Linked DNA regions of Homo sapiens. The protein of the gene in region 1 purifies or fractionates together with the protein of each later gene. This does not show direct contact. Each region holds a gene or a part of one and is shown in the gene's direction. Other genes may lie near its edges.

Evidence for each region. Proteins that work in one complex are often made in the same cells at the same time.
Region 2: the proteins of VCAM1 (region 1) and ITGA4 purify together in Homo sapiens (affinity purification with mass spectrometry; 2 studies listed by BioGRID). This does not show direct contact.

What each region holds. Positions count from the first base shown.
Region 1 is NC_000001.11:100,718,143-100,721,898, forward strand, and holds the start of VCAM1 (vascular cell adhesion protein 1 isoform a precursor), read left to right. Parts: upstream 1-1,599; 5' UTR 1,600-1,718; coding exon 1,719-1,782; intron 1,783-2,333; coding exon 2,334-2,609; intron 2,610-3,756. UniProt on the Homo sapiens protein: Cell adhesion glycoprotein predominantly expressed on the surface of endothelial cells that plays an important role in immune surveillance and inflammation.
Region 2 is NC_000002.12:181,474,374-181,478,129, forward strand, and holds part of ITGA4 (integrin alpha-4 isoform 1 preproprotein), read left to right. Parts: intron 1-586; coding exon 587-693; intron 694-785; coding exon 786-915; intron 916-1,446; coding exon of another isoform or gene 1,447-1,478; exon of another isoform or gene 1,479-1,847; intron 1,848-3,756. UniProt on the Homo sapiens protein: Integrins alpha-4/beta-1 (VLA-4) and alpha-4/beta-7 are receptors for fibronectin. They recognize one or more domains within the alternatively spliced CS-1 and CS-5 regions of fibronectin. They are also receptors for VCAM1.

The sequences.
Region 1 (3,756 bases):
TAAAACTCCATAATACCCTTTTGATCTATTCTGAAGTTAAGTAGTGAATTTACATGATGATGACACAAACACTGTAAAGGACCTCTGGGTTACTTGTTTATAAGCTAGTATTTCCTGAATCAATTTTTCTGATCCCTAGATATTTGGTAGGTGAAGTCATACCTATATATCCCCACACCCTAGAACAGCATCTCCAACTTATTTTTCCCTCCTTGTCTTTTAGTGGGAGCCACATCAGTATCCAAGAGGAGATCCAGAAGCCTCTCCAACCAGGTAGGGACAGTTATAGATTCCAGACCTCAGCTATGGCCTTTGTTACAGAGTACAAATGTTATATAGTACAAGTTTATTGTACACATCCCATTGAGTCTCTGAGCTTTAGAATTTTCTTGTAGAATTTAACAGTTTTTTCATGCCGTATTTACATATTATTGCTAGTATTTAGAATTTTCTTCTCCAAATGTATAACGTTTATTATTGCATTTTTTGTATCCACTAAGTGGAAAATCATGCATTAGATATTGTAGAAGTAGATACAACAATGAACAAGAACTGGTCCTGACCATGAGAGGAACTGATGATCCAATGGGGGAGATAGACCTGCACGTGTTTAATAAAAGGAAGTGGCTATTCCGGTTTCTTTTTGATGGGCAAGCATTTTGCAAGGCCTTGGGCTATGTGTGTGCAAGGCTAAGCCAGTTAGTTAATTGGGATTTTTTTAAAAAGGCACTTCACTGGGGGGAAAAGGAACATAGAGTTGGTTATTGTCCCCTTGCCTATAATAAAAACCTATTATTTTTAATTTTTTAACTGGGTTTGCGGTTAAATCTCACAGCCCAAGAGATTTGCCACTTCAGATGGATTCCATACACTTGCATTTAAGTATGCAAAAAAATTCCAATTATCCAGCAATTTAACCAAATTATTGGTAACTTTTCTAAAACAAAAAAAAATTGTTTCCCTTGTTTTGGCAGCAATTTCAGTTACAGTCCTTTACTTTCTACTCAAGAAAATAGTTTCAAAAAGTTGATGTTTGTTGCTAAAAGAACTATTTTTATGAATAAATATAAAACTAAGAAGTTATGGTGTCCCTTTTTTAAAAAATGACTCATCAAAAGAAATAACTTTTTCCTTTCTCTTGTAAGAGAAAAAAATTAATCTCTTTTAGAATTGCAAACATATTTCCTTGATGGAGAAAATCAATTCACATGGCATAGTCGTTATTTATCCAGTTCAAAAACCAGAGTAGAATTTACTACTCTGTCTCCATTTTTTCTCTCCCCACCCCCTTAACCCACATTGGATTCAGAAAGCTTCATTCTGCAATCAGCATTGTCCTTTATCTTTCCAGTAAAGATAGCCTTTTGGAGTCGAAGATGAGGAAAAGCCTGTATTTTATAGTCTTGGAAGTGTCTTCTTTTGCCAGGACAGAGAGAGGAGCTTCAGCAGTGAGAGCAACTGAAGGGGTTAATAGTGGAACTTGGCTGGGTGTCTGTTAAACTTTTTTCCCTGGCTCTGCCCTGGGTTTCCCCTTGAAGGGATTTCCCTCCGCCTCTGCAACAAGACCCTTTATAAAGCACAGACTTTCTATTTCACTCCGCGGTATCTGCATCGGGCCTCACTGGCTTCAGGAGCTGAATACCCTCCCAGGCACACACAGGTGGGACACAAATAAGGGTTTTGGAACCACTATTTTCTCATCACGACAGCAACTTAAAATGCCTGGGAAGATGGTCGTGATCCTTGGAGCCTCAAATATACTTTGGATAATGTTTGCAGCTTGTAAGTTATTTCCCTTCATCTGTTTCAAATGTTAGCATTCAATTTTAGCCCTGGTTTTGGCTTCAGTCAGTTTTGCGATAGTAGTGAAGTAAAGACACTAGGATTTTAAACAGTAGGAAAAGTTAATTTAGTCTAACTTTTAATATGCAATTGAGTTTTGCTATATACCATTGTACTGTCATAGTTAGAGCTGAAAATTGATGTTTTTGGTATCTTTTTTTCCAAAGGCAATTGAGTAATTTGGATTCTGTCTCTAGTCGGTCTGTCTCTTTAGTTTCCTATACTTGACAATGAGGTCAAACTTAGCAAATAACAAAACAGCTTTGATAAATGGGCATCAAGGTTGGAACTGAGAATTCTCTCTACTGAAGATGATTCCATAAACTTTTTTGGCAGTGACTTCGGTGCTTTTTGGCTACCTTGCAGTTAGTTTGAAGCAGCTTAGGAAAGAGATCAGTCTGATCATATTTTAGACATTATACAGAGAAGAAGGAGGAGAATACTAGACAAACTAGTGGTAAATTTGCTTCTGTCTTTTTTTGCTTTTGCAGCTCAAGCTTTTAAAATCGAGACCACCCCAGAATCTAGATATCTTGCTCAGATTGGTGACTCCGTCTCATTGACTTGCAGCACCACAGGCTGTGAGTCCCCATTTTTCTCTTGGAGAACCCAGATAGATAGTCCACTGAATGGGAAGGTGACGAATGAGGGGACCACATCTACGCTGACAATGAATCCTGTTAGTTTTGGGAACGAACACTCTTACCTGTGCACAGCAACTTGTGAATCTAGGAAATTGGAAAAAGGAATCCAGGTGGAGATCTACTGTGAGTGCTTTAGAAAATCTTTGTTTTTCTCTCAATTTTACTTTAAAATCACTTTTTAAAAATGATATTTTAAAAAAAGTTTTAAAATGGATATTCATGTACAGATTCTTGGCTAAAGAACATACAACATCAGGAAAGCTAGGGACAGCTAAGGCCAACATGAGAGAGAGCAGGAATCCAAATCTTGGCTTCTATTTCTACCTCTGCCACAAACACAGTGACCATGTATAAGACTCAACCTCTCTGGGCTCTGGTTTCCTTAGCTGTAAAATGATCATTTCTAAGTTTCTTTTTGTTTTATTAAAAAATATTTCCATTTGATTACATCCTTACATGTTTACTTGCTTATGTGTCTGATTGATTTATGAATTCCATCCTTCAGGGATTTTCTATTCATTTATTCTTATGCAATTTGATGCTTAAAATTAGTTTAAACATTAAGTAGATCTATAATTAGTAATATGTATTAGTATAAAAGTGTTCTTCTTAGACATAATTGTTAATATCTGGAAACATTTCAATCATTTGACTTTGGTGTTGACACATTTAGGATTTTTTTTTGGTTTTTTTGGTGCCATGAAGCCTTGGTGCTCAACCGCTCAACTTCAAAGATATTTATATAATGAACTAGATTTGCCTCATGAAAGTGAGTGGATGTCCCTAGTTTACCAGCCTGACAAAATGCATCCCACTCCATTCTCCATTCAGCAAACAAAGTTAGCAAGAGGAGTAAAAAACTAACCAGACATAAATCATTTGCCTTTTGTTACTGATGGCCTCTCTTTCTAAAAAACTGAACCCATTTACGGTCATGTCTTCATGAAGACCTCATTTGATTATAATTACTTTGGTTTCGTTTTATTGTACCGGAGCTCAACTTTTCCCAGTAACCTTAATTGATTCTGCAACAAACCGCATGTGTTGCTCAAGCTTCCCAAGAAACTGTGCTTGGCCGGCTGCTTTCAATTATGCTGGTTGTATGTGCATAGTTTATGTCTGTGCAGCCTCCCGAGCTCCTTGAAAGCTTCCCTTATGTAAATACAGGGAAAAGTAGCAAGTTCTTATGTTACCTGACATCGAACTGTGTGGATTAGAGGAACATTTCTTACAGAATATGAGGGACAGAAATTATTGCTGGAAAAATGAA
Region 2 (3,756 bases), on another chromosome or scaffold:
TGTTGAAAACATGAGTCATATTCCAATAAATGTAAACATAGGGCAGTTTCTTATAAACGCAAGGCATTATTGGTATGCTAATTGTATGTTCCACTTTCTGCATGCTTAATCATCACCTTCCAGCTCCAATAAATTGTACCTTAATTGCTGAGGATGTATTATAGTCTTTCTATTCTTAATATCTCAGTAGAAGAAACATTTTTAAAAGTGCTCTGATAATATTGCTTACGTTGTTAGATAAATGGCTAATTCTTTTCCAAACGTTAGACACAGCAGTTATAGTTGCACAACCTGGTATTAGCTTTAAGTGGTTTTCCCCACTCCTAGTCCTGTTAGCTATCTCTTATATGATTGAGTCTATCTTTTTATGGTGCTACCAGTCAGAGGTCATTTCTACAACCAAAGTCACCTTGTATTAGAGAATAATTAGTTGGCACAGAGTAATTCACATTTATCCTCACATTGTGCACTGAATATAAGATAGAGAAGTAGTTAACAGAAAAATACTGGGGATGAGTGCACAGTTTTCTCTTCTTTTGTAGAATGTTTTCAATACAACTGATAAAATTATTTTCACATGCTATAGGTAGCCCTAATGGAGAACCTTGTGGAAAGACTTGTTTGGAAGAGAGAGACAATCAGTGGTTGGGGGTCACACTTTCCAGACAGCCAGGAGAAAATGGATCCATCGTGGTAGGTATTGGAACTGGTCCACAGATCCATCGTGAAATCAGCTATCCTGGGTGCAGCTTTCACATCATTTGGTCTACTTTTATTTTATTCAGACTTGTGGGCATAGATGGAAAAATATATTTTACATAAAGAATGAAAATAAGCTCCCCACTGGTGGTTGCTATGGAGTGCCCCCTGATTTACGAACAGAACTGAGTAAAAGAATAGCTCCGTGTTATCAAGGTAAGGCATGATTTTGATACGAATTAGATAAAGATAAGTAAGTGAATACCTTTTAGTGTTTTAAATTTATGTTCAAGTTTAGATGTTCAGAGGAGAGGGAGATCTTCTAAGTAATTATGTTCTTTTTAACTACTCAATTTCTTTCTTTACCCAATTGCAATAGCATTATTTTTCATAAATGCACTTTGTGCTATAAAAATTCTACAATTTGAATAACTCTGAAATCTAGCTCTTTAACTACCCACTTTTGCATCAAATTTACTTTCAATTTGGTATAGGTGAGACTAGTACCCAGCAAATATAGGACATTTAAATTGTGAAATTATATTGGAAGTCTGATTAAAAAGAAAGACTTTAGGTTTCCTTTTTTACCTTTAGCTTCCAGGAGTAATTGGGAAGAATAATCAGTGTAAGCAAATCTTTCATTCGCACTCACTATCTCTTTTTCTAATTTACATGTTTTCCTTCAAGCAGCAAGAGATTCGTGTCTTGAGTTTGAAACATTTTTCTCATGGTAACTCTATGCTATAGGTAGCATCAGCAAGTACAGAGCTAGGACATAACAGAAGTGAGCAGAATTGGGGTGAATGTCAACAGAGCATGTCAGAGGATATCTGCAGCAAAACTAAAATCCAACAATGCGTCTTTAGGAGCTAAGAAACATATGAATGCAAATTCATAATTTTCTAACCACCCTCACTCAAAAAAAATCCCTCAGCACGCAAAGAAAAATTTTATTGGTTGGCAAAACTTTGGCCAAGTATTTGAGTTCAATTATGGGTGCTAATAAGACTTTGGTCTTTCTTCCTTGGAATGTGATGTCACAGAGCAGCTTATATTACATATATTCCTATTTTGCCTTCGGATACCCAAAAGATAAAAAAGTGAATATTGATTCTCAGTTGCAATAAAACTCAGTCTTGATTTCTGTATGTTTGCTGTCTTCTTTTTCCTAATAGTTTTCGGTTTATCTTTAAAATATTTTCATAGTAGAGTTTTTAGTTTTTCTCGGATATACATAGCCACATACTACAAAAATCTCAAGATGCCATAAACCTAACCCATCTACAATTGTAAAATACAGGATCAGGTAAGATATATTTTTTTAAAGGGATGAAAACTCCTGACCAGAAATGGTCATTATAAATGACTTACCAATTTATTGAAGTTTTCTGCTTAGCAAAGCCAAAAGGAAGCTGTGGTTCCAATTCTTATTTTCATAGAAGTTTACTTATATCATTTTTTGGAAGAAGCAAAGCTTTGCCCCCTTAGAAAGTTCCAAAAGCATTCATTCATGGGACTTTGTAATAATAGACCTTTATGTCCATGCAGATCTTGATTCAGTCTATATTTCAGTTGGGCAAAATCTAAGAAAGGACACTCTCTTCAATTAATGGTGTTAGCAATAGCAAAGACATGGAATCAACCTAAATGCACATCAATGTTGGATTGGATAAAGAAACTGTGATACATACACACTGTAGAATACTACACAGGCATAAAAAATAACGAGATTATGTCCTTTGCAGCAACTTATATGGAGCTGGAGGCCAATAACCTAAGCGAACTAACACAGGAACAGAAAACCAAATACCACATGTTCTCACTTATAAGTGGGAGCTAAACATTGAGTACATATGGACACAAGGGACACAAAGTAGGCACAAACACTAGGGCCTACCTGGTGGTAGACGGTGGGAGCAGAGAGAGGATTGAAAAACTACCTATCAGGTACTATGCCTATTACCTGCATGGGGAAATAATCTGTACATCAAACCCCTACAACACGCAATTTATCTATGCAACAAACTTGCACATGAACCCTGAACCTGAAAGTTTTTTTTTAAATGCCTTTGGGAAAATTGGCTATCTGCGTGCAAAAGAATGAAATTGAACGCTTATCTTAGCAAATATACCAAAGTCAACTAAAATGGATTAAAGACTTAAACACGATACCTGAAACCATAAAATTTCTAGTGGAAAACATAAGAGAAAAGCTACTTGACATTAGTCTAGGCAATGAGTTTTTGGAAATTACACCAAAAGCTCAAACAACAAAAGCAAAAATAAACAAATGAGACTATATTAGAAAGCTCCTGCATAGCAAGGGAGATAATCAACAGAGTGAAGAGACAGTCTGCAGAATGGGAAATAATATTCGCATAAGTCCTATATATTTAAAATGTATAAGGATCTCACCAACTCGATAGCAAAAAACCAAATAACTGATTAAAAATTAGTCAAGAGACCAAATGGCTTTCTTTCCAAAGAAGGCATCAAAATGGCCAATAAGTAGATGAAAAGGTGCTTAACATCACCAATCATCAAGGAAATGCAAATTACAAACCACTATGAAATATCACTTCACACCTATTAGAATTGTCATTATCAAAAAGGCAAGAGATAACAAGTGTTGGCGAAGGTGTGAAGAAAAGGGAACCCTTGCACACTGTTGGCTGGAATGTAAATTGGTACAGCCATTATAGAAAACAGTAGAGAAGTTACTCAAATTAAAAATAAAACTACCATATGGTCCAGCAATCCCTCTTCTGGGTATATATCCAAAGGAAATGAAATCAGTACCACATAAAGAGATCTGCGTTTTTATGTTCATTGCAGCAGCATTCACAATAGCCAAGTTACAGAAACAAGCTTAGTGTCCATTGACAGATGAATGAATGGATAAGGAATTGTGTGAGGTGTATATATACACACATATATACATAAACATATACAATGGAGTATTATTCAGCCTTTAAAAAAGGAAATTCTGACTTTTGTGACAACATGGATGACCCCGAAGGACATTATTTTAAGTGAAATAAGCTAGGCCCAGAAAGA